Regions from separate parts of the Homo sapiens genome. Here regions 1 and 2 are each linked to region 3. Evidence: fine-mapped expression QTL. A gene starts in region 3. Each other region holds a variant in brackets. All regions are shown on one strand. Distances are between the middles of the regions. Region 1 overlaps KSR2 (kinase suppressor of ras 2). Region 2 overlaps KSR2 (kinase suppressor of ras 2). Region 3 holds the start of NOS1 (nitric oxide synthase 1).

Region 1 (8,429 bases), 420 kb before region 3:
TTCGAATCTGAAAGGTCTGAGCAAGGCTGGCTCCATGCAGCCTCCCCTAATAACGCCACCTGGGTCTTCTCTGGTCACAATTACTGACAGGAGAGGGCTTTGCAGACTGTATCTACTTCATTAAGGATCAGATTTCTCTTTTGCCTTACAGAAGGCATCCACCTACCATTTTACGGAGTGAGAAGAAAAGGTCAGAATTATAGGTGCTTGGAGACTAATTTGCAGTGAGATGTACGAAGTTTAGCAACTTCAAGTTTTTCAAACCCTGAACGTTCTTAATCTCCAAGTCTAGACAAATTGCAAAGTGAGATCACTGGACCAGCAGCAACAGCAACCCCTGAGAACTTGTTGCAAATGCAAAATTTCAGACTTCACCCCAGATCCCAGGTATGGGAAACTTAGGGGTGGAGCCTAACGTTGTTTTAATAAGCTCTCCAGGGAATTCAGATACATGCTCAAGTTTGAGATCCACTAGCCTAGAGCTTCCTTTTTAATGGAGAGAGAATCATAGAATATTCAACTTGAGAAGATCAGCTTTGTCTTCTAGTCCAGGTCATTTGAAATGTGTTCTGGAGGCCGGGCAATGTGGCTCACACCTATAATCCCAGCACTTTGGGAGGCCAAGGCAGGTGGATCATTTGAAGTCAGGATTTTGAGACCAGCCTGGCCAACATGGTGAAACACTGTCTCAACTAAAAATACAAAACAAACAAACAAAAAAGCCAGGCGTGGTCATACGCACCTGTAATCCCAGCTACTTGGTAGGCTGAGGCAGGAGAAATGCTTAAACCTGGGAGGCAGAGGTTGCCGTGAGCTGAGATCATGCCACTGCACTCCCGCCTGGGCAATGGAGTGAGACTCTGTCTCAAAAAAAAAGTGTTCTGTACAACATTGGAGCTCAAGTCCTACCTGCAGGATTTTTCAAAGCTTATAATATGCTAATGTGCTTTTTTAATCTCCAGGGGAGGGTTATAGCATGCAGTCTTTTTCAGATTTCCTTTCAGGACTCATATCCCATGGTACAGTTTGGAAAACACAGATCTAGTCCAATCTCCCAGCAAGTGGACAATTTGAAGTTACCTTCTGTAAATTTCTGGTTATTCAGCCTTTCCTCCAAGTCTTCTAGATACAGGGAGTTGCTGACCTTATGAAGTCATTCATTTCTTTTGTTTCAGAGGAGATCTTGGTAACTATTAGCATTTGCCTTACAGTAAGCTAAATCTGTTTTCCTTTAATTTCCTCTTGGTTTTACCTCTGAGTCCTGGAACCTCCTAGAACAAGTCTAATTCACCTTCTGCCTGACAGCAGCAGGAAGACAGCTGTTCATTCTCCATCTCTTTCCAAGACTTCTCCTTTCTGGTTCCCATCCCATAGACATGGTCTGACTTTTTTAGCTAGTGAAGTATTTAGAAATTGCTTCTTTAAAATTGCTTATTTCCCACGTACAGTTTCAAAGAGTGATTACAAAGAGCAAATGTTTATTATTGAGTTGAAAGGTATCTCAAGAATTTTCTGGTGTGGTGTAGTTTATCTCTACTTCATCTATCTGAGACAGATGGCAGTTCATCCTGTTAATAAAGATCTGGGGGAGATCACACAGTCTTTCTGGTTAGTCTGCTTTGGTGAGTCCAGTGGTTTTGCTCATCTGAAAGCTCCTTCTTGTGCCTAGCCACGTGGTTTACTTACCCTTCCACTCCTAAACTATATTTGCACTTTGCTTTGACCAACCAATTAACTGGCTTTCTTTTTTTTTTGAGATGGAGTCTCGCTCTGTTGCCAAGGCTGGAGTGCAGTGGCGCAGTGTCGGCTCACTGCAACTTCTGCCTCCTGGGTTCAAGCAATTCTCCTGCCTCAGCCTCCCGAGTAGCTGGGATTACAGGCATGTGCCGCTGTGCTCGGCTAATTTTTGTATCTGTAGTAGAGGCGGAGTTTCACCATCTTGGCCAGGCCCATCTCAAACTCCTGACGTCAGATGATCCGCCCGCCGTGGCCTCCCAAAATGCTGGGATTACAGATGTGGGCCACTGCTCCTGGCCTACTGGCTTTCTTCTTATCTCTCATTTACCCATTTACTCATTCATTCCATGCACATTTGAGTATCCATTCTGTGCCTGGTATCCCACAAGATGCTACAGAGCCAAGACTGAACAAGACCAAACTGATCTGCACAGACCTTACAGTCTCTAAGGGAGAAGAGCAATGATCATATAAACACATAAATACACACTTTAAACTTGTGCTGAGTGGACAGGCAGTGGCAGAGAGTAGTGGGGTAGGGACAAATTCAGATGAGATGGTCTAGGAAGGAAGCTTGATGTTTGAGCTGAGAGCTGATATACATAATTTTTTTTTTTTTTGAGATGGAGTTTTGCTCTTGTTACCCAGGCTGCAGTGCAGTGGCGTGATCTTGGCTCACGGCAACCTCCACCTCCTGGGTTCAAGCGATTCTCCTGCCTCAGCCTCCCGAGTAGCTGGGATTACAGGCTTGCAACACCACGCCTGGCCAATTTTGTATTTTTAGTAGAGACAGGGTTTCTCCATGTTGATCAGGCTGGTCTCGAACTCCCGACCTCAGTGAGTTTCACTCTTGTTGCCCAGGCTGGAGTGCAATGGTGCGATCTCGTTTCACTGCATTCTCCGCTTCCTGGGTGCATGTGATTCTCCTGCCTCAGCCTCCTGAGTAACTGGGATTACAGGCACCCACCACCACGCCCAGTTAATTTTTGTATTTTTAGTAGAGACGGAGTTTCACCATGTTGGCTAGGCTTGTCTCAAACTCCTGAGCTCAGGGGATCTGCCTGCCTCGGCCTCCCAAAGTGCTGGGATTACAGCCGTGAGCCATCATGCCCAGCCAAAAGATGTTGTTCTAAATAGATACTAGGGTCTGCTTAAGGGTGGAGGGTGGGAGGAGGGAGAGGATGAGAAAAAAGAACTATTGAGTACTAAGCTTAGTACTTGGGTGGTGAAATAATCTGTACAACAAACTCCCATGACACAAGTTTACCTATACATCAAATCTGCACATGTACCACTGAACCTAAAATAAAAGTTTAAAAAATAAAAAAAATAAAAAATATGTTAGTATCATGGGTAATATATGAGTGAGTGGGACAGCTTGAATGCCTGCTTAGTAAAAAGTGGAAAATACGATTGAAAAAATATACTTCTTTCTTAAATGTTGTTAAAATGGAATAAATGTCAAAATTTATCTGCAAAAAAAAAGATGTTCTAGTAACTTGTCTTTCATAGTCTTGATAAGAAATCTCCTGTCATTCAAGTTGTTGTCCTTTTATCTATAATGCATCATTATTGTTTTTTTAATGGCCGCTTTCAAGATTTTCTTTGGCTTTCAACAGTTTGATTATGATGTGCCTAGGCGTGGTTTTCTTTGAGTTTATCCTATGTGGGGTTTGCTGAGCTTTTAGAATTTGTGAATTTATGTTTTTCACAAAATTTGGGAATTTTCAGCCATTATGTCTTTAAGAGTTTTGTTTTGTTTTTTGTTGTTTTTATTCTGCACCAATCCTTCTTAATTCTCCAGTTAGATCTTTTGAATGTTAGATCTTTTGATATTCTCTAATTGCTCCTTGGGGCTTTTTTAAAGAAATCAATCTTTTTTCCTCTCTGTTCTTTGGATTTGATAATTTCTATTCACCTAACTTCACATTCACTGACTCTTTCCTTTGTCATCTCCGTTTTGATATTGAGCTCATCCAGTAAATGAGAACATTTTCCAATGAATTTTGGATAGTGTATTTTTCGATTCCAAAATTTTCATTTGGTTATTTTTTAATAGCTTCTGTTTCTCTATGAAAATTGCTATCTTTTCATTTCAAGAGTGGTTACCTTTATCTTATGGAGCATGGTCATAATGCCTGCTTTAAAGTTTATGTCTGGTAATTCTAATATCTGGCTCATCTCAGTGTTGCTACCTATTGATTGCTTTTTTTTTTTTTTTTTTTTTTTTTTTTTGAGATGGAGTCTCACTCTGTTGCCCAGGCTGTAGCGCAGTGGCAGGATCTTGGCTCACTGCAACCTTCACCTCCCGGGTTCAAGCAATTCTCCTGTCTTAACCTCCCAAGTAGCTGGGACTACAGGCACCCGCCACCATGCCCAGCTAATTTTTGTATTTTTAGTAGAGATGGGGTTTCACCATATTGGTCAGGCTGGTCTCAAACTCCTGACCTCAGGTGATCCACCTGCCTTGGCCTCCCAAAGGGCTGGGATTACAGGCGTGAGCCATCATGCCCAGCCTGTTGATTGCTTTTGCGTTTGAAAATTGGTCAGGATTTTCCTGGTCTTTGGCATATCACGCAATTTTGGAGTATCTCCTGGAGATTTTGAATATTTTTGTGAGACTCTGGGTTTCCTTCTGGAGAATATTGATTTTTGGTTTGCTTGTTTTGTTTTTCTTAAGCA[G/A]TCAGTAGTCTGGTTAGAGTCAGACTGTCGGTGCTGTCTTGTCTTCTATAGGTGGTGCTCCAATGCCAGTTGAGTTCCTAAAGCCTTTGCCATGCTTCTTAGGGTTTATTCCAAGTGTGGGCAGCATTTCACACACAGATTAGGGCTCTCCTCCAGTTCTTTTCTTTTGGAGATAACTTGCACATTATCTGGCTTTCAGGGGCCTCTTTCTCCAGTTCTTTTGGCCAAAAAGATAGGGTTCTGTTAGAGTTTTAGCCTCTTGTCTTGTTGCACAGATCTGAATGACTGGCCTTCTCATTGGCGGTAAAGTGGTGAGAGAAAAGAGAGAGAAAAAAACCCATGGGTGCAATGGACTTAAAGATGATGCAAATAGCAGACACTGGGGACCACTAGATGGGAGAGAGTGGGAGGGAGCAAGTGCTGAACAACTCCCTATTTGGTACTGTGCTAATTACCTGACTGTATTAGCCTGTTCTCGTGCTGCTAATAAAGACATACGTGAGACTGGGTAGTTTATAAAGGAAAGAGGTTTAATGGACTCACTGTTCCACGTGGCTGGGGAGGCCTCACAATCATGGCAGAAGAGGAAGGAAGAGCAAAGGGACGTCTTACATGGTGGCAGGCAAGAGAGCTTGTGCAGGGGAACTCCCATTTATAAAACCATCAGATCTCGTGAGACTTACTCACTACCATGAGACACAGTATGGGGGAAACTGCCCCCATGATTCAATCATCTCCACCTGGCCCTGGCCTTGACATGTAGGGATTATGACAATTCAAGGTGAGATTTGGGTGGGGACACAGCCAAGCCATATCACTGAGTGATGGGGATTATTCATACCCCAAACCTGAGCATCACACAATATACCCCTGTAACAAACCTGCACATGTACCCATGAATCCGTAACAAAAGTTAAAATTATTAAAAAATTAAAAAAAATTCTCATGTACTCTTCCTTACCTTATTCACATAACATTGGCCTCTATTCTGAGCTTCTCAGTCCAAAGGAATGGGATATCTTTTGGGGGCTTTGGTGCCTGTGCTGTTTCTGTGTCATATGAGTGCAGTTTTGTGTCTGGGCTGATTTTGGGACATGGCTGGGATAGAAAAAAGACACACACACATAAAAACCCCAAGGATTCTGCCCATACTCTCCTACTCACAGATCTTCCTTTCCTGGTCCTCTGGCCAGAAATATGGGATACTCTGAAGTGTTTACTCCTCATTTCCAAAGCACAGTTCCTAAATCCTGCCAACTTTTGGCCAAAACTGACAGATGAAGGAAACTCACCACCGCCATAATGGCCATGCTTCAGATGTGGACTCCCCTGCCCTACCCACCTGCTGTCATTGACTTGTAGGAATCCTCAGGTTGTTGCCTTTTCCATTTTTTTTCCCAGAATTTTTGGGAAAGATAGGCTTTGGTGGGCTTGCTCTATCATGGCCAGAGCCAAAACTGGGATGGGTATTTTTTAAGTATAAAATCACTAGACCCTCAAAACAATCCTATGAGGTGGGTGACACTATCCCCATTTTACAGATGAGGAAACAGAGGCTCTGATAAGTGAATCAGGATCTAAGCCCTCACCCGATTGCTGTTGTCGTGCTACTTGGCACCTTGCTCAATGCGTTGACATGATGCAGAGGCTGTTTCCTTGCTTGCCTTATCTCCCCTATTCCACTATGGGACCCTTGGGGTCAGGGGCTACATCCACCTTGTCCTTCATCCATGAAATCAAGAAAATATTAATAACTACCTTGTAGTGCCGTTGTAAGGGTTGAATTAGGTAATATACATATAATATTTAGAATAGTGTTGGGCACACGGTACACTTTCCAAAAAAGGGTGATCATGATCATTGTCATTTTTATTTTTTCCTTGGATATTGAATGCTGACAGCAAAGCAATTGACATAGGGTAGGGCTCAGTAAATATTTATTAAGTTCAGTCCTTGGTGAAACCATTTTTATCCTTAAACACCATGGATCTTACTTTGTTGTTTCTTTTAGAAACCCATGAGCATTTTTTGCGATTATTATGTGTAGTCCCCCATTCTACCCACAGGATGTTGCTATGTGGGGCGGAGGGGTCTAGATGTCCTGGTCCCATTCTTACCCTACAGCCTTTCCTGTTTTCTTCTTTTTCTTGCTCAAGTTGAACTTTTCTCACTTCTCCCTTATCGAGAAATAAGAGGAACTCTGGGTTCAAATTTTGGCTTTTTCACTTAGGAGGTTTGTAGCTTAAAACATGTAAAACACAGACCCCTAGAATCTCATATATACTTTGTGAAGAATAGAGTCTACCCCACAGTGTTGCTGTGAGAATTACAATGAGGTGGTACTCGCAAAATGTCTAGCATAGTTCGTGGCACATAGTAGATACTTTAAAAATATTTGTTTCTGGTTGGGTACAGTGGCTCACGCTTGTAATCCCAACACTTTGGGAGGCCAAGGTGGATGGATCACTTGAGTCCAGGAGTTTGAGACCAGCCTGAGCAACATGGCAAAACCCTGTGTCTACAAAAAATAAAAAAGATTAGCTAAGTGTAGTGGTGCACGCCTATAGTCCTAGCTACTCGGGAGACCAAGGTGGGAGGATCGGTTGAGCCTACAAGGTTGAGGCTGCAGTGAGCCATGATTGTGCCACTGCACTCCAGCCTGGGCAACAGAGTGAGACCCTGTCTCAAAAAAACCTGTTAGTTTCCTCATTAACATTTGATAATAAGATATTCAGCTGCAGTATGAGAGGAGTTACTCTAGATACAGGAGGGGAGTTCTGGTCCAGATACTATTGGCCAGAAGCTGACCAAGGCTTCTAGCATCTCAAAAGAAAGTACCTGCTCCATAGTATGCACTCAATAAAGACATGTGGAAAGAATAATCAACAGAACAATTCGAATTTGCTACCCTATCTCCCAGCATCAGACTGCCCTACAGGGTTGGTAACTAGGGGTGGAACGATGTTAAGCATGAACATCTCTGTTGCTAGTATCTAAACATGCTTAGTTCCACTTTACCCGATGATTTTTTATCAGTTTCAACGGTTTAATTATTGTTTAGACCTGCAGGGATATTTTTAGTTTTGCATTTGTTCTTTATCTCTGGGTTCGGCAGCATCTCCTTTTAGAGATATCCTTTGGAAGCATTGTCAACCTGACGTTTGGGCTCCAGAGGCAGGCTGGGTGCCAGGGAGGGTTAACTGCTAGGGGGACTCATTTGTGTTGGCTTCCTTAGGTCAAGCCAGTAAAATATTTATTGGTGTAAATTTTGTGCCAGGGGCTCAGATGGTTTGAGGATATGGAAGATACCAAGACATGGTCCCTGAGCATCAGGAATTCATCGTCCAGTTGAAGACACAGACAAGTTTACAACTCAAATGCAGTGGGTTTGGTTCGTGAGGGGTGATCATTGGTGCCATGACATTGCACATGGCACTGTCCTCTGGATAAATCCTCAGCTCTCCACTTTGACTTGTCCACCTCTTCTCTGCCTCACTTTCCCCCTTCCCTCTCCCCATCATCTGCACTCTACCTCCTCTGCCACTCTGAGCCTCCTCCGGTGGATCACATCTTTGGACAGACTGGTTCTGGCTGGGACACTTGTCCCTCTTTCTTTGCTTAATGAACCGCCACTCATCCTCCAGACCTGTATTAGTCTGTTCTCACGCTGCTAATAAAGACATACCTGAGACTGGGTAATTTATAAAGGAATGAGGTTTAATTGACTCACAATTCCACATGACTGGGAGGCCTCACGATCATGGCGGAAGACGAAGGAAAAGCAAAGGGACTTTTTACATGGCAGTGGGCAAGAGAGAGCGTGTGCAGGGGAACTCCCATTTATAAAACCATCAGATCTTGTGAGACTTTTTCACTGCCATGAGAACAGTATGGGAAATACTTGCCCCCATGATTTAATTACCTCTCACTGGGTCTCTCCCACAATACGTGGGAACTATGGAAGCTACAATTCAGTGAGATTTGGGTGGGGTCACAGCCAAAGCATATCA
Region 2 (8,429 bases), 210 kb before region 3:
AACCTTGCTTCCTCCACAATGGAATAGGTTTCTTTTTTTCTTTTTTGAGACAGAGTCTCACTCTGTTGCCCAGGATGGAGTACAGAGGCATGATCTCGGCCCACTGCAGCCTCGACCACCCGGATTCAAGCAATTCTCCCGCCTCCGCCTCCTGAGTAGCTGGGATTACAAGTGCCCACCACCATGTCCGGCTAATTTTTGTATTTTTAGTAGAGACAGGGTTTCACTATGTTGGCCAGGCTGGTCTCAAACTCCTGGCCTCAAGTGATCTGCCTGCTTCGGCTCCCCAAAGTGCTGGGATTACAGGCATGAGCCACCGTGCCTGGCTGGAATAGGTTTCTTCTGAGCATACTCCCTCAATAAATCATTTGCAAGAATATTCATTTCAGGATCTGCTTCTACAAAACTCAACTTATGACAGTGAAACAACAGCAAGGATACAGACTGCAGAGAGAGAGCTGAGTTCAGGTCCTGGCCCTGCCACTCCCTCGCTGTGTGACTCTAGGAAGGTTTCTAAACCTCTCTGATACACAGTGAGGCTAACACATTCATTCCATGTGATGAGATATGTTCATGCCCCGATAATAATGACTTGAGAATTCTTTCAAATTAGAATCTTTAAATACGTTGTTCAGCATTTATTTCGTTGCAAAACCCGACTTTATATGAATGCAAAGTATAAAAAGAAACAGACCCACTAAATCGCTTCCATGGGTTGAAGCAACATCGAAGTTCTGGAAAATTTTAGCCCATTTTCGCCTTTTCTGTAGTTCTTGTTCTCTGCTTTTCCTTCAGAATTTTCTGAATCAGCCAACTTCTTGGAAGACATGTTATAGGGTTTATTTCAGTTTTTCTCAACCTTGGCACTATTGGCATTTGGGGCCAGATAATTCTTTGTTGTGGGGGCTGTCCTGTCGTTGGAGGATGTTTAACACCATCTACAGTTTCTACCCACTAGATGCCAGTAGCACCCCCTCCTCACTCCCAGTTGTGACCATCAAAAACGTCTGCAGATGGCTCAAGCCTGTAATCCCAGCACTTTGGGAGGCCGAGGCGGGCGGATCACAAGGTCAGGAGATTGAGACCATCCTGGCTAACACAGTGAAACCCCGTCTCTACTGAAAATACAAAAAATTAGCCGGGCGCGGTGGCAGGCGCCTGTAGTCCCAGCTACTGGGGAGGCTGAGGCAGGAGAATGGCGTGAACCTGGGAGGCGGAGCTTGCAGTGAGCCGGGATCACGCCACTGCACTCCAGCCTGGGCAACAGAGCGAGACCCTGTCTCAAAAAAAAAAAAAAAAGTCTGCAGACATTGCCAAATGTTCCCTGGGGGTCCAAACTGCCCCCAGGAGAGAGCTACTCATTCCTACGCCATGGGGCTATGGTGTGCATTATTCAGTTTTAGAATGTGAACTTGCAGTTGCTTGACCTGTGCTTGGACTCATTACTCAAACAGTCAACTTATAGGGTGAATCCTTATATATATTTCAGGTTATAGGGTGAACTACAGGGTGATCCACTCTATAGTTATAGGGTGATATAGGCATTATAATCCCTATTATACAAGGGGGTGATCAACCATCCCAGTTTGCCTGGGACTTTCTGAGGTTTAGCACTGAGATTCCCAAGTGCCTAGAAACCCTTCGGTCAGGCCTAGGTTAGCCACCTTACAATAGACGTAGGTCTTTACTAACTAAAGACATTTTATATGTTCCTATGTTCCAGTTGAGGTTACTGCCCACTTCTGTAGGAGTGAGACCCATGTTCGTTCCCCTAGTAAGGTAAGACATGGTGTTTGGAAGCCTGAGTTAACCAGCACAAGATTTCCAGTGTATTTCAGTGGTGTTTTCATGGCCTTTATACGAGTCCTCTTTCCTCCTGCCTGCAGTGGCTGGCCAGACATGCTTGTACCTACTTCTTTTTATGTAAACAGTCACTTTAATAATTTTTACTTAAATAAGCCATGCACTTCTCAATTGACTTTTGCCGTGTTAGTGGATCTTTTCACTTGGGTTTGTACACATCAAAATCCAAGTGAAAATGTCAAATAACACAGCAAAACCAAGCACATCTTGATTTTCTCTCTTGCCCTGTGCATTCTGCTCTCCTATGTTCTTGCAACAAAATATATTTTACCTAAAAATGTCCAATTTTTTTGCAAAATCGCTGCAGCCACAGGTGATGAGGAGATAAAAGTGTGAAGTAAGCCATGGCTGGTTTGAGCCACCATTGCACTAATTTACCCAGACCTTAAAAAGTGGGGAAATGATGAGTGCTGATGTCGCAGCTGCTGCGAAGTTCCTGGAAGCTTTGGGAGTTTGTACAACAGGCAGGATATTGGCAGGATATAATTATGAGCAAGTATTTCAGAGATCACCAGCTTGAATCTTGAACTTACTTTTCTATTAATAGAAACACTTCAGTTTTTGCAATAATTATAATGGGAGTTAATCATCCTATATATGCGTTTTTACCTATGATAAGCAAAAATTTAGGTCTAATTATAGTTGTATCTGAGGGATGCTTATAATTCTACTGGGGGCTGAGGTGGGATTAGATGTGATAATGATGATGATAATTATGATGATGCTATCATGTATTGGGGGCTCACCCAGGTGCCAGACATTTTGCTAAACACTTTACATGCATGATCTCATTTAATCCTTGCCACAACTATGGAAAGTAGGGTCTATTATTACCCCCATTTTACAGACGAGGAAACAGAGGCCTTCAGAAGTAAACAGCCGGCTCGAAGTGTCACGGTGTGTGGATCTGTTACTCAAACCCACTGATCGCTCAGATTCACGATCCCAGACTTTTAACCGCTTTACACGGGCAAAGGGCTGGCTACACAGCAGGCCGGCAATAAATGCTACATGTCACTCTGCTTGCCCTTTAACTAAACAAGCAGAACAGAGTATAAGAATTTGGTCTCAATTCCAACCTGGACCAAAGCTTTTCCTCATCCCTCCCCCAGCCTGCCACATGCTCCCATCATCCTTTCTTGAATTGAAAGATGACAAATGGATCTTTGTGTTCTGATGAACACCTCTGGGTTCAGAGAGCCAAGAAGACTCTACAGTCGCTTTCTTCTTTTTCAGGGAAGGCGAGGGAGAGGAGAGGAGGGAGGGTACAGCAAGTAATACATTTACAGCTTCCCTTACAGTGTCCTTTTATGGAGAGAAAAGTGCTGGGGGTTCCTGGTGATTTTTCATGATGTCCTTGGAACCCGAGGTCTGATTTATATGTCAATACTTCCTACCGCCCTTTGCTCATTTGTATTGTGGTTAGCTATAGGCTAAAGAGCTAGACCCCACTGAGTTGTTAGCAGTGAGGGAAAGGGTGTTTTGATATCCTGTACTTGGAGCATACGGAGGCATTTCTAGAAGCACTGGCTCAAACAAGAGACCACAGGGGAACTCACATGAGACCAGAATGCTCAGTTGGTATGCAGTGAACCTGCACTTTT[G/T]GTTTTGATATCCTGCACTTGGAGCGTACGGAGTCATTTCTAGAAGCATTGGCTCAAACAAGAGACCACAGGGGAACTCACATGAGACCAGAATGCTCAGTTGGGGTATGCAGTGAACCAAGCCCTGCTGCAAAGGGGGCAAGGATTCGGTTTCGTGATTTTTTTTTTTTTTTTTGCGAGAAGCCTTCAGGAACACTTAATGCAGTGACCTGGAAAAGGAAAGCAGGTACAGAGAGTAGGGAAGATAATGAGAGGGGAACTTTGCTGCCCTTTAATTGCAAGTTTCTGCTGCCAGAGGGTGTCTTTTCAAAATGCTTAGCCAGCATTCCCCTCCCTGTTTAAAATCCTTCATTAGCTCCCCCTTGCTCTCGGCGAAATCCAACTTCATGACGAGACCGCGCGCCATGTTTGCTTACTCCTCTGTCCCCTCGCATCTCTCCCCTCTTCATGCCCAGAGCTGCAGCTTCTCCGAGCCATCAATCCCCGTGGCAGGTCATGTGCCCACTCATTGACATGTCTTTGCACCCCATTGCTACTGCCTGGATCTTTCTTGCACACCTCTGCTGGCTCTCATTTATCTTTCAAGCTCAGCTCAGCCACCACTTCCCTCCGGGAAGCCTTCCCTGACTCCCCTCAAATCTGAAGTGCCACCTTCTGCCCTTTTCTGTCACACCATATTACATACTACTATGTTTTATTTGTCTATTTACCTGCCTGTCTTCCTGACCAGACTTTAAACTCTTTGAAGGCAGGGCCATCTCATTTCTGGACGGTTCACTGTTTAAACCTCTAGCGCCAGCACAGTGCTTGGCACACATGGTAAATGCTCAGTAAATACTTGTTGCTTGAGTAGATCTCAGTAGGGACCTCTGCAGAGAGAGCGGTTCTTGACAATATAAGCTCCCCAAATCTGGTTCAAATCCAGCTGGGCTCATTTATAAGAGGCAATTTGGGCGCAGTAGGATGAGTAGAGAGATGTTCATGCTTGAAGCCACAAGAGATGGGTTTACATTCTTGGACAGTAAATTTCTTGCTAGACTGCAAGATCTTTAAAGAAAGAATTCTTGTCTTATTTAATTATTATACCTCCAGTGCCTAGCATAGCCCTTGGCACAGAGGAGGAACACAGTGTCTTCTTGTGGGCATGCAGGGATGAATTGTCCCAATTCTGCCCATCACTATCTGAATGACTGAGCTTGTTACTGGACCCCAGTCTTCTTGACTTAAAAATGGGTATACATGGAATACTATGCAGCCATACAAAAGAACGAGATCATGTCCTTTGCACGAACATGGATGGAGCTGGAGGCCATCATCCTTAGCAAACTAATGCGGGAACAGAAAACCAAATACCACATGTTCTCACTTATAAGTGGGAGCTAAATGATGAGAACACATAGACAGAAAGAGGGGGGCAGGCCAGGCGCAGTGGCTCACGCCTGTAATCCCAGCACTTTGGGAGGCCAAGGTAGGCAGATCACGTGAGGTCAGGAGTTTGAGACCATCCTGGCCAACATGGTGAAACCCTGTCTCTACAAAAAATACCAAAATTAGCCAGGCGTGGTGGCGCACTCCTGTAATCCCAGCTACTCAGGAGGCTGAGGCAGGAGAGTCACTCGAACTGGGGGCGGAAGTTGCAGTGAGCTGAGATTGCACCACTGCGCTTCAGCCTGGGGACAATAGACATGGCGGCCTACTTGAGCAAGGAGGGTGGGAGGAGGGAGAGGTTGCAAAAAAAAAAAATAACTACTGGGTACTAGGCTTAGTACCTGGGTGATGAAATAATCTGTACAACAAATCCCCGTGGCACGACATGAGTTTACCTATGTAACAAACCTGTACGTGTCCCCCTGAACCTAAAATAAAAGTGAAAAAGCAAAAGAAAATACTGGGGGGAAAAGTAACAGTTAAAAAGAGTCTTAAACTTCAAGTCTTAAACTTGATTGCAGTCTGAAACTTGAATTGAGGTTTTAAAGCCATGCACATAGAAGACTTAGAATTATATATCACATGATTACACATGACTACACAATGGGGCCACATCAATGAGGATTTATCACTTCTGTTTTCTGAAGAATGAATGAGCAAAATGAATGTATTAGATCTGCAGTGAGAGTAAACAAACAGATAAGTTATCTCCAACAGAATCTAATAAGGGTTAAAATATATGTAAAACATTTCACACAGTTTATCTCACATGGTAAAGGGAAATAATTATTATTCCTATTCTCATTGTCAATATTGTGATTCCATAGCCATATATAAACTGATATCCACTATTTTATTAACAAAAGTAAGCCAACAAAAGCTAGATGTTCAGTACTTTTCACATATTACATGGGTGTAACAATATACACCTCTTAAGAGATTGCTGTTCAGGGGAAATGGGTTGTGTAATTTAGCACCTGGCTCAAAGTTTGTGCTTGTTTAATGTTTCCTCAATTGGATATTAGGAGCCAGGTTTTTAAAATGTTCCATGTGCACTCTGGAAGGAAAGACTGGGCCCTAGTCAGACAGATTATTGTAAAGTTAGCTGGCATGGAACAAGAAAAAATAGGAGAAATGAGAGATCGAAGCTGATCGGAGCAAATTTTCATCCGTTGGTTAGAATCGCCCAATGAACAGTGAGAAATTGACGTGACAGTCTTCCCTAGGAGGGGTCTTGCCTGTCCCTCCTGTGAACGCCAGCATTTGGATTCCAGCTCTGTGCCAGGCTCTAGGCTTATGACTGCTTCACAGGGGGCCATGACACATCTTTCAAGAAAACAGCAGAGCTGCTTGTGAAAGAGACCATTTGTCCCCCGCAGTTCCCATGGAGATCCAGTTTGCTTCTGGTCAAATCCTGCCCTCCAGCCCCGCACTGGGAAGAAGGGAGGGAAGAAAGAAGGAAATGCAGAGGGGGCATCATTGCATTTCACAAACAAAGAGGGATACGATTTATAAGAAATAGAAATAGCCTTTCAAAAACGTTTTGATAGGGATTAGAATGTTTCTAAATCTGCAGTGTTTGACAGATTTCCCCTTCTGCCTGTTCTTCTTTTTCTTTCCTCCTCTTTCCCTCCATCTCTCTGATACTTACCCACCAGATAATACACACCAGGCACCTTTCAATGAAGGAGGAAAGGAAAGGGAGGTAGCACATGAGGGAGACCTAGATTCTGCCCTCAAGATAAATTCACATATTTAATATTCAGACAGAGATGATGTCTCATTTAGCCAGCAACTCCCTTGGGGGAATGAGATGTTCCTCGTAAGCAACTTTTCCTGATAACTGAAGCTTATCCTATTAAACCTTAGAAGTTAAAAGAAAAAAGAAGTTAACTATTTGCCATGAAAGTTTTAAATAAATCCTTTCCAAGTTTGCAGGCTTTTTCTGTGTGTGCTCAGAGTGGGTCATATCCCTGCCTGCTAAAGCGTTGACCTATTTGGTGCCTATGTGGTACTACTTAGACATTCTCTCATTAGATGCTGTCTTGCCCTGCCAGGAAGGGCAGACCTGTGATTCAGGCTCAGGTCGGCTTGATTGCAAAGTGCAAACTTTTGACCATTTCTGGAACCATATAGGACCTTCCCTGGTGCCTGGGAATCCTTCAGACCCACCATCTTGAAACATGGGGCTCCTCCTGGCCCATATCTGGTGTGGAGGTTTGCCTTCTTTCACGTTACTGGGGGCAGTCTGTTGTGTCCACCTCACCTCTTCCCTTCCTCCTTCGGGAATGGAGCACCTGGAGAACCAAATTCATTAGGGACTGACAGCATGAGGAGCCAAGGGTTTTGGTGTGAGAGCCATGGGGAAGGCCACGTTCATGCTCTGAATTTCTGTTAATAATCCTGGTGTTTTAATTGGGCTCCCTGTTTCCACAGACCCAGAGACAAGGATGTGAGGGCAAGTGGTTTATTTGAGAGGTGATCCCAGGCCACACCAATAGAGGAATGGGGAAGTGAGACAGAGAGTTAAGGCAGCTGGTAATGGGTGCATCAAAGAGCAGGTGCTTGGGGGGATTGGGGTGCAGTCCTAAAATGAGCATGCCTCTGGGTCATGCCACCCATGAGAGAGGGGGCTGGAATATCCATCAACCAACGCCCACCTATAGTTGGTTGAGGTCTCCAAGTGTTCTAGCCAGCCCATGTTTCCAGCCAGAGAAAGTCCTCCAGCAGAGGATCTTAGGGGCTTGCTGTAGAAAGCTGCTGCACAAACTAGCAATAATTATGGTAACTACCATAATAAAGATAGCACCTGCCGCTGCTTGAGATTCTACTGTGTGCCAAATATTTGTTCTGGGCACCTTACTTGCATTATATCATTAGTCCTCACTGCAACCCAGAGAGGCAAGAGGCTACAATTGTCCCCACCTTACAGATGGGGAAACTGAGGCTCTGAGTGGATCGGCAGCTTGCCCAAGTTATCACAGCCAGGGAGTGGTGGTATCAGGATTTGAACCTAGGTTTGTTCTATATACTTTCCCCATTTTCCTTTCGGAGGAGAACATTGTATTCCGAAAGATTCAGGCTCCCATTCATCTCTCATCTGGGAAGTAGAATGTATTCCTCTGATATGGTAGTTCTCGAGTTTCACGTGTGCTTGCTTAAAATTTGCATTCCCAAAAGACACTTACCCAATCAGGACCTTGGAGAGTGAGGCCTGGGAATCTAATTTTGAAGCAGGTGGTCTCCTGGTAAATTACACGCTAGTAGCTCTTTCTTCCATGGGTAGGGAAAAGGAAAAGCCACATTTTGGGAAAATGATGCACATTTCCAGCTGGAAGAACAGTTTCCATTAAGAGGGACATAGTGTGCTTTGCAAAACCTTGCTGTGGTCCCTCTTCCCTCTGTCTCCAGAGTCTGTGTAATTTCAGGGTTTGTCTAATCCTGCCGACTCTATTAGCAGATCCGGGATGTGCAGGCTCTCGTTCTTGACATCTGAACCTAAGTGCAAGGTTTAAGTGCCTGGGCATTGGAGAT
Region 3 (8,429 bases):
ACCCATCCACCATCCATGCAGGGGTTGAGGGGTGTGGTCCTGAGAGAAGGACCAAGAATAATTGTTATCACGGTGACCATTTATGAAGTGCCTGCCCTACGCTGATGCCTGGATGGGTCTCAGCTGGTTTGATCTTCCAATAGCTCGAGAGAAGGGTGGCACAACCCTCATCTCCCCCTGAACCCCAGAGAGGTCCTGGTGGAATCAGGTTATTGTGACAGCCCAGAGCAGCTTCCAAGGCACTACACCCAAGGGGCATTTTGGGGACTGTCCCAAGGCCACCTGGTTGATGGTAAAAGTCTCTTCCCTCCACTTGCTGGGGATCTCTGGAGACACTGTCCGTACTCATGTGGTAGGGGTCCCCAAACACCAGGAGCCACTCTCCCCAAACCCTAGACACTCCCCAGATGGCTCTGACATCCTCCCTCTCCCTCTTTCTCCACAAGACAGCGGCGAGGAGGCAGGAAAAGCTCCACTTTGGGGTCCCGAGTTCTAATATCTGCTTTACCACAGATTACCTGGGTGACCTGGAGCAAGTCACTTTGCCTCCAGAGCCTCTATTTTCTCCCTCTGTAAAATGGGAATAAGAAAGGGAGTCATTTCTTACCATTTTTATGATGGTTCAGTGAGTTATACCTATTAAATGCGTGGCTCAAAACCAGCAAAATGGGAAGTGCTCAACAGAAGATGGCCATTGTTCTCTTTACTACCGCAACTAGTGTTGTCCATAGTTCCCGTTAATCCTGGGGAAACCACCAGAGGGAGGGAAGGGAAGTATCTGGCTCTGTCTGTCACTGTCCGTCTTTCTCTGTATCTCTGTCTCTCTTTCCTGTCTCTGCCATTCTCTCTCTGCCAATCTCTCTCTCTCTCTGCCAATCTCTCTGCCAATCTACCAATCTCTCTCTGCCTCTCTCTCTTCTCTTACTCTGTCTCTCTTTTTCTCTCTGCCAATATGTCTCTCTGTGTATTTTTTCTTTCTGTCTCTGCCAATCTGTCTCTCTCTCTCTGCAAATCCCTCTGCCTCTCTCTTCTCTTACTCTCTTTCTGCCAATCTGTCTCCCTCTGTTTTCTCTGTCTTTCTCTCTGTCTCTGCCAATAAGTCTCTGTCTTCCTGTCAATCTCTCCGTCTCTCTCTTTTTCTGTGTGTTTTTTCTATCTCCGTCTCTGCCAATCTCTCTCTCTCTGCCAGTCTTTCTGTGTGTTTTTCTATCTCTGTCTCTCACTGTCTCTGCCAGTCTCTGCTGTCTCTGTCTCTCTCTTTGTCTATAAATCTCTCTGCCTCTCTCTCTTCTCTGACTCTCTCTGTTTGTGTGTGTGTGTGTGTGTCTGTCTGTCTGTCTTCGTCTCTCATCTACACACACACACAGAGGGCACCTCATGGTCCCTGGCTCCACCCGTGGGCTCTGAGGCTCTGTCTTCCCAGATCTCTGTCTCAAGAGCTACATTCTAAGGCTTTGCTTTTAATCGCACCAGGGCACCTGGAAGTGAGGAGAGAACTGAGGGGAGTGGGGTTTCTGTCCCCCTCTCCCCAAACCCAAGCCAACTCTGCCTTCTGCAGGCACAGCCAGCCTTGGCCCGACCCCACTATCTCCACCATCTCGTGGCCGTGCATCCCCTCCCAACCACCCTTCTCCCCAATTTCAAAAAAGCTTGTGCTCCCAGAGAGGAAGTGCCCCTACTCTGAGCTTCTTTTGGCCTTGACCCACACATAGGCAGACGTGGACTCTGTTTTGAGCAGGTGAACCGCCAGCCCAGTGGAAGAGCAGCTTCCCTTCCCCTAGCTTCCTGATTTTCCCCAGTTGCCATGGTAATTGAGGGAGCAGTGTTCTGAGAATGACACCACTGAAACCCAGCGCTCAACTTTGAAATGGTTCGGGCAAGGGACGCTGGACCCAAAACAGGAGGGGACCAGACTGCAAGGACTCAGCTCCAGCCTCAATTTTCTGGGACCCACCCCCCATCCAGCCTGTATGCTGGATTATTCTCATCATCATCAAAATCACCATTATTGTTGGCAACTGTTTCCTGAGCATTTACTATATGTCTAGCACCATGTCAAGGGCTTCACCAGCATCATCTCATTGTGTATATCCTCACGACATCCCCAGGCCCATCCATGGCTCAGGAAACAGGCTCTGAAACTTGCCCTTGTGGCAGCCAGGAAGTGGCAGAGCCCTGGGGCTGGTGGCATTTCTCCAGGCCTCCTTCCAGCATGTGGAAGACAGCATAGACCTCCAGGCACCCTCGTCAGCTTATTCTTTATTCCTTCCTCCCCTCCTCATCCCCCACACCCTTCTTCCTGCCCCCAAAGTCACACACCCCCTCCCCTGCTGGATGTGCAAGACGATCTGAAAAGCATTTATTAGTGACAAAGGGGGTGGTGGTTTTCCTCTTTGCCTCTTCTCTGCGCAACTCGAAGCCTGAGTGGGTTTGCTCCGCTTGGCAAGGCTGGGGAGGAGGAAAAGATCAAATCACCCAGAGCCAGGTGCCAAGTGTGTGTGTGTGTGTGTTTGTGTGTGTGTATGTGCGCGTGTGCGCGTGCGCGTGTGTGTGTCCTCTCTTTCCTTGATTTTCCCCCGTTTTCCCAAGACTGTGTGAGCAGCAGCAACAGCAACGGGGAGATGCAAAATCCTTTGCAATCTGCCCAGGAAAAGACAGATTTTGAGTCGGGTTTATATGGTTACCCATATGTTAGGGCCCCTAAGAAAGGAAGGGAAGCTGCGTTCTCTGTGTCTTCCCTCCTCCAGCCCAGACCTTGGCCTCTCCACACCTGTGGGGCTCCCAGGCCACAGATGAACATGTGCCCTCCATCCTTCACTCTCCCCAGATGCCAGGCCTGAGTGTGGCTCCAGAAAAGACCAGAACCAGGCAACATTTCCTGAACAGGCTGCTTTTCTCCGTCTGTCCACCCGAGAGCCAAGGCCAGAACCCAGGCTGCAACCTCTGCGGGCTCCTGGGAGGGGCTCCCAGCACTGCCCAGCCTGGGAGGCTGTGTGTTCCACTGTCCCATTAAGGAATGCTATCCCAACACTGATGTAGAGGCAGAAATAACCATCCCTGCCTCCCATGGGGCCTTCTCTGCCCAAATAGACCTGCCCTGCCCTGCGTGGCTACTACATTCAGCCCTATCCAGGCTCCCAGAAATTGTCATTGTGTGTGTGTGTGTGTGTGTGTGTGTGTGTGTATGTGTGTGTGTGTGTGTGTGTGTGTGTTTCCTGATAGAAAAAAAAAAATGGAAATTAGGTTATATAAAAGATGTATGCTTTGGAGCCCAGAGCGGCTCTTTTAATGAGGGTTGCGACGTCTCCCTCCCCACACCCATAAACCAGTCGGGTTGGACGTCACTGCTAATTCGTTTCAGTGATGATAGGATAAAGGAGGGACATTAAGAAATAAATTCCCCCTCACGACCCTCGCTGAGCTCACGGCTCAGTCCCTACATATTTATGCCGCGTTTCCAGCCGCTGGGTGAGGAGCTACTTAGCGCCGCGGCTCCTCCGAGGGGCGGCCGGGCAGCGAGCAGCGGCCGAGCGGACGGGGTGAGCCAGGGGCGCGCGCGGGGCGCCCAGCACTGCGCCGGGGAAGCCCGCAGCCTCCGTCCCGAACTTGGGTTCGCTGAGGCTGAGGGAGGGGACGCAAGGGGAGGGAAGAAGAGAAGGGAGGAGTGGGGGCTAGGGGAGAGGGGGTGGGGAGGGATCTTGGAGGCACAAAGCGGAGGGGAAGGGGAGGGACGCGCGCGGCTCCTACCAGGAGGCGAGTGGGTGCAACCGGCGCCCTCCAGCCGCGCGGGGCGGCGGACTCGGAGGATTCAGAACCCGGAGCGCGGCGGCCGCGGGCGCCCGGGAGGAAGAGGAGGAGTACGAGGCGGGCGGGCGGGTGCGCAGCGCGAAGAGGCAGCCTCGGCGCTGCCCGGCTCGGCGTCAGGTGAGTTCCTGATCCAGGCGTCCCGCGCCCCTTCTCCGTCCCCAGGGCTCCCCGCTCCCGCCCGAGCCCCTGGTGTGCGCGGAAGGCTCGGGCTTTGCTGCGCGTCCCAACTTGGTTCGGGCGGCCTCATTTTCCTCCTAGCGGGCGGCCTCAGGCCGGGGGCTCCGGTCCGGGGGTCTACGCGCCCAGGCTCCAACTTTGCAAGACCCTAGTCGTTCCTCAGCCGCGCGCTTGGCTCCGAGCTGTGCGCTGGCGGTAATGGCGGAGCCCTTGGCACAGCTCGCTACCCTCCCGCGGGCAGCCCGGGCTGGGGGATGCCAGTCCCTGGGGACCGTTGTACCTGCCCAAGCTCAACTTTACGCCTTCCTCGGTGCCCGACTCTGCGGCCGAATCGCAACTGCGAGCCGCAGGTAATGGCGGAGTCTTTGGCACTGCCAGCTGTCCGCGGCTGGGGGCCCGAGGCTGGGAGGGCTCCGCTCCCGGAACATCGCTCCGGCCTGGCCTCCAACTTTGCGAGGAGCCTCCTTGCGCTCTCCTCCCGCGGTCATGGCGGGGCCGCCCGCACCTCTCACTTCTTCCGTCTGGGCGAGATTGGGGTGTAAGAGCGCCGTCTCCAAAACCTGGGAAAGTTGTGCTTCTCCCGCAAAGGAGGCTCTAGGGAGGCCGAGGGGCGCGTTCCGCCACGGTTCGGGGCTGGGCAGTGGAAGGAGCGCTCGATGAGGTTGCTTCCAGGTGGCCAGGGTTCGGAGCAGGGTCCCCGGGGGATCCAACTTCCAGGGCCACTCAGGGGCCTTGCGTCCGAGGTCCCGGAAGGGGCTCTCTCGGGACTGCGCCCCAGAGGACGCCAGACGCTCGCCCCCACCCCCAGGGCACTGTGACCAGAGAGCTCATGGCTCTCCAAGCTCCGCATCAGGCTGTCTGGGGTAGACATCTAGAGAGGAGAGGCTCTCACGGAGAAGGCAGCCGAGGAGGGCAGGAACCTTTCCAGTGACTCCCCTGGGTTCTGGTCCTAGATCGACCCTTTACTTGTTGCGTGACCTTCGGTAAGTCTCTTCATCTTTCCCAGCCTCAGTTTCTCATCTGTAAAATGGAGAAACTACCTTTTTCGTGGGGCTGTCATGAGGACCTTAAAAAATCATAAATGTGAATATGAAGTCAGGGTAAGCGTTCATAACGCAGGAAGTGTTGCTGATATATATATATATATATATATATATATATATATATATATATATATATATATATATATAAAACCATTATTGTAATGCTCTGGGACCGGATCTGGGAGACTCGCACGCAGGTCTAGGGTTTCCCCACCAGTAGGAACCGGGGGGTCTACCCCACAGGGTACTACAGGCTGCGGAAGATTGCTCTCGCCTCCATCTCTACCCCAGTAATCCTGGGAAAGACGCATGGGATTCTTCCCTCTACTCCCATAGCCCAGCTCAAACCCTGCGCTCAGGCCTAAGAAAAGCGCGCACGCAGCCACCACGGAGGGAGGGTCCCCAGGGACGCCGCTAGGCAAGGGTGCGGTGCAGGCGAGCGCGCCCATAGGCGCCTCATCTCACCTCTGGCGGCCCACGACATTGGGAGACAGCAGAAAGGAGACCCCAGACCTCTCCTCCCGAGAGGAATGAGGGAAAATTGCTGCCTTTCTTTAGTGCTTCTCTAATTGGGGTCGGGGCAAACGCAAGAAATTCGTAAACACCAGGGAACACTGACGCAGCTCTCTGGAGCATAGATTTTTTCCCCCGTTATTTTTTCAGAACTGAAGATAAAATAGGAAAAGGGCTCTTGTGGCAGCTCCCCAAGTGCGCAGGGGTCGCGTCCATTCTCCGCCCTCAAGGCATCTCAGCGGATGGTTTGAGAAGCCTCGGCAGGTCCCTGAAGGAGGGGGTGTCCGCCCCACCAGCACCGCCACGGCGGGCCCCGGCCCCTTTCCACTAGTCTGGATTTCAGAAGCGCCCTGAGGGGCGCACGGCTCTGCCACTGACAGCTCCAAGGCACTGTCACACGTATTATTCACCTGGAGCCTCTTAACTTTCAGGTTGCCAGTGCAGCCATCTGAATTCCATTTTGCAGCTGCGGAAATTGAGGTGGGGCAAACCAAACTACCTAGCCATAGTCACCTAGCTGGTAAGTGGCACTACCCGAGACCTCAACCCCAATTTTCGGCTTCTTAATTGGGGCATTTTGCATGCATCTGGGCATCTACGCAGTCTGGCATGTGCCTGAACCTTAGCACACACAGCTGTATTTCCTGATACATCTGTTCAGCCAGAGGCCAACGCTATGGTCAGGGGCATGGCTTTGTCTCCACAAATTGTGTGATTTTTTTCCCCAAAGTCCCAAATCATGTAGAGAAAGAGTGAGCAGTGTGGTAGAGAGACCTGGTGAAGACCTCAGCTTGAGGCCAAGCTTAGCTCACTCCATGGCTGTGTGACCTCAGGTTGATCACTTAACCTTTCTGAGCTTCAGTTCTGTTATCTGTAAAATGAGAACAGTAACTCCCACACGGGGCTGTTTTGAAGACTCTGTGATGATGTATGTGAAAGGGGTTCTGGAAACAATGCTGGTATGCCAAGACTGGTGATTGTAAGGAAGGAAGGGAACCCGAAACAGAGGGAAGAGTGTCCCATGGAGCCATTTGGGGCCAATAGTGTCATCGTGGCTTTCAGAGCAGCCCGCTTTTTGCCCTTTCTGTCTCCTCTTTATATTTCCCAAATGGCCAAAGCCAGTCCCCAGGAGCCTCCATCTTCCTTGGGGAAGGACCGCACGGAGAAGAGTGAGAGGGCGGGGGTATTGTGATGGGTTAGGCTGCTCCCAGTGGGTCTCTGTGAGTAAGATGCAAAGAGTTGTCCGAGGTACCATTCAGTCAGTTGTCCAGAAACTTCCCCACTGGGGGGCCGCTGATTTCCCAGGAGGCAGGAAGATTTGGAGGTCAATTCGCCTGCATATTGTGAGCACAGACAGGTTTGGCTGTGCCTGTTGCGCTCACAATCTGCAGATGTTTTGGGGTGTCTTATGACAAGACTTCATGTGTTGCCTGTCACTCAGGTTCTGTGGGTCTGTGCGGGGCTTGGAATGTGGTTAAGAGCCACAGGCAACAATCCGTGCTCGTGAGAACTGGGGCTTTTTCCCATTAGAAACTGGAATTTGTGGAAGTTGAATTTGGCATTTCAGGACCCATTTTAATCTGGATTGTTTGAACAGAGGGGCATGTTTCCTGCCATGGATCAGTGTGGGTTTGTGTAGTTAACACCACATAGGTTACAGACATGACCATTTTCCTCGTTCTAATATATGATAACATTTAAACATCATCTAATCCAGCGAACGCCAAACATCAGCCCAGTGGACCTTTAGTGTCAGAATACAGCAAGTCCCTGGTTAAAAGCAAAGATGCCAGACCCCACCCTAAATCTACCGAATCAGCATTCCTGGGGGAGACTGGAAATATCTCTATTTTTAACAAGGTTGCTCCAGGAGATTCTAATACTCTCAGTTCTTGTCTGTCACCCTCGTTGTACAAATTGGGAAACTGAGGCCCAGAAGAGGCATGTGACTCGATGAAAGTCACACAGCACATTACTGCCAAAGCTGGGATAGAACCTCAGTGTCTTGACTTATTGTCCAATCCTCATCGATGATAACTTCATGTTTCCTTCAGTACAAGCCCCGTAAATGCCGGACTTTAAAGAAATTTAATTTCATCTTTCTGGTTGTTATTCTAAATTAGACCAACTGCTCAGAGGAGACTGAAAATAATTCCTCCCACCTTGACCTTGCTGGGTGTCAGCCCTGAGTTCCCATCTAATCTTGGACATTAGCCCCACTATTTGATCTCTCCCTTTCAGAGGGAAGGGGCTTCGACCTCCTGGGCTCAAATGATCATCTCTCCTCAGCCTCCCGAGTAGCTGGGACTACAGGCCTGTGCCACCACACCAGGCTAATTTTTGTATTTTTTGTAGAGACGGGGTTTTGTCATGCTGCCCAGGCCAGACTCAAACTCCTGGGCTCAAGCCATCTGCCTGCCTTGGCCTCCTTAAGTCCTGGGATTGCAGGTGTGAGCCACCACGCCAGGCCTAGAAAAATTCCTTTTATAAGTGACCTATCAGGTATAACTTCTGCAAAGAAGTAATCACAGAGCTAATAAACCCAGTTTAACTACCACTGATTTCACCAAAGCCATTGGTTTGAGTTCATTTCCACAGCCCATCGGCCTTCCACTCAGCCTTTGCAAGTGTGTTTATGTTGCTCACATGCCCATTCTTAAGGTGGAAGAATGATGAGCAGCACCTGGCAATGCTGGAAAATTGAGCCCATTCGAATCTTTTAAATGAAAATGACGTGTCAACAGAAAGTGCCCCTAAGTCTCTAATTCAAGTATGGTTAACAGGGTATAGTGGACATGGGTCTTGGCACAGTCGTATGATGCTAAGGATGAACAGCAGTTATCGTGGGCTGTTCGGCAGCAGACGTCAGCACATTTATTGTATGTGTCA

The links. PIP is the estimated chance that this variant, and not a neighbour inherited with it, causes the effect.
Region 1: its variant is fine-mapped to the expression of NOS1 in substantia nigra (GTEx, PIP above 0.99).
Region 2: its variant is fine-mapped to the expression of NOS1 in thyroid (GTEx, PIP above 0.99).

Annotation. Positions count from the first base shown.
Region 1 is chr12:117,780,958-117,789,386 of GRCh38, reverse strand. The region is part of intron 3 of KSR2 (kinase suppressor of ras 2); the gene reads left to right. Among named protein-coding and RNA genes, the nearest start is that of KSR2, 180 kb to the left of the region's middle. The variant G/A (reference allele first, on the strand shown) is at 4,420.
Region 2 is chr12:117,562,875-117,571,303 of GRCh38, reverse strand. All of the region lies in intron 7 of KSR2 (kinase suppressor of ras 2), which reads left to right. Among named protein-coding and RNA genes, the nearest start is that of NOS1, 210 kb to the right of the region's middle. The variant G/T (reference allele first, on the strand shown) is at 3,468.
Region 3 is chr12:117,356,622-117,365,050 of GRCh38, reverse strand. It overlaps NOS1 (nitric oxide synthase 1), which reads left to right and starts at 3,425. Exons shown (of 29, transcript NM_000620.5): 1 at 3,425-3,539. RefSeq lists promoters at 2,379-3,300, 3,467-3,539, 3,764-3,924, 1,647-3,924.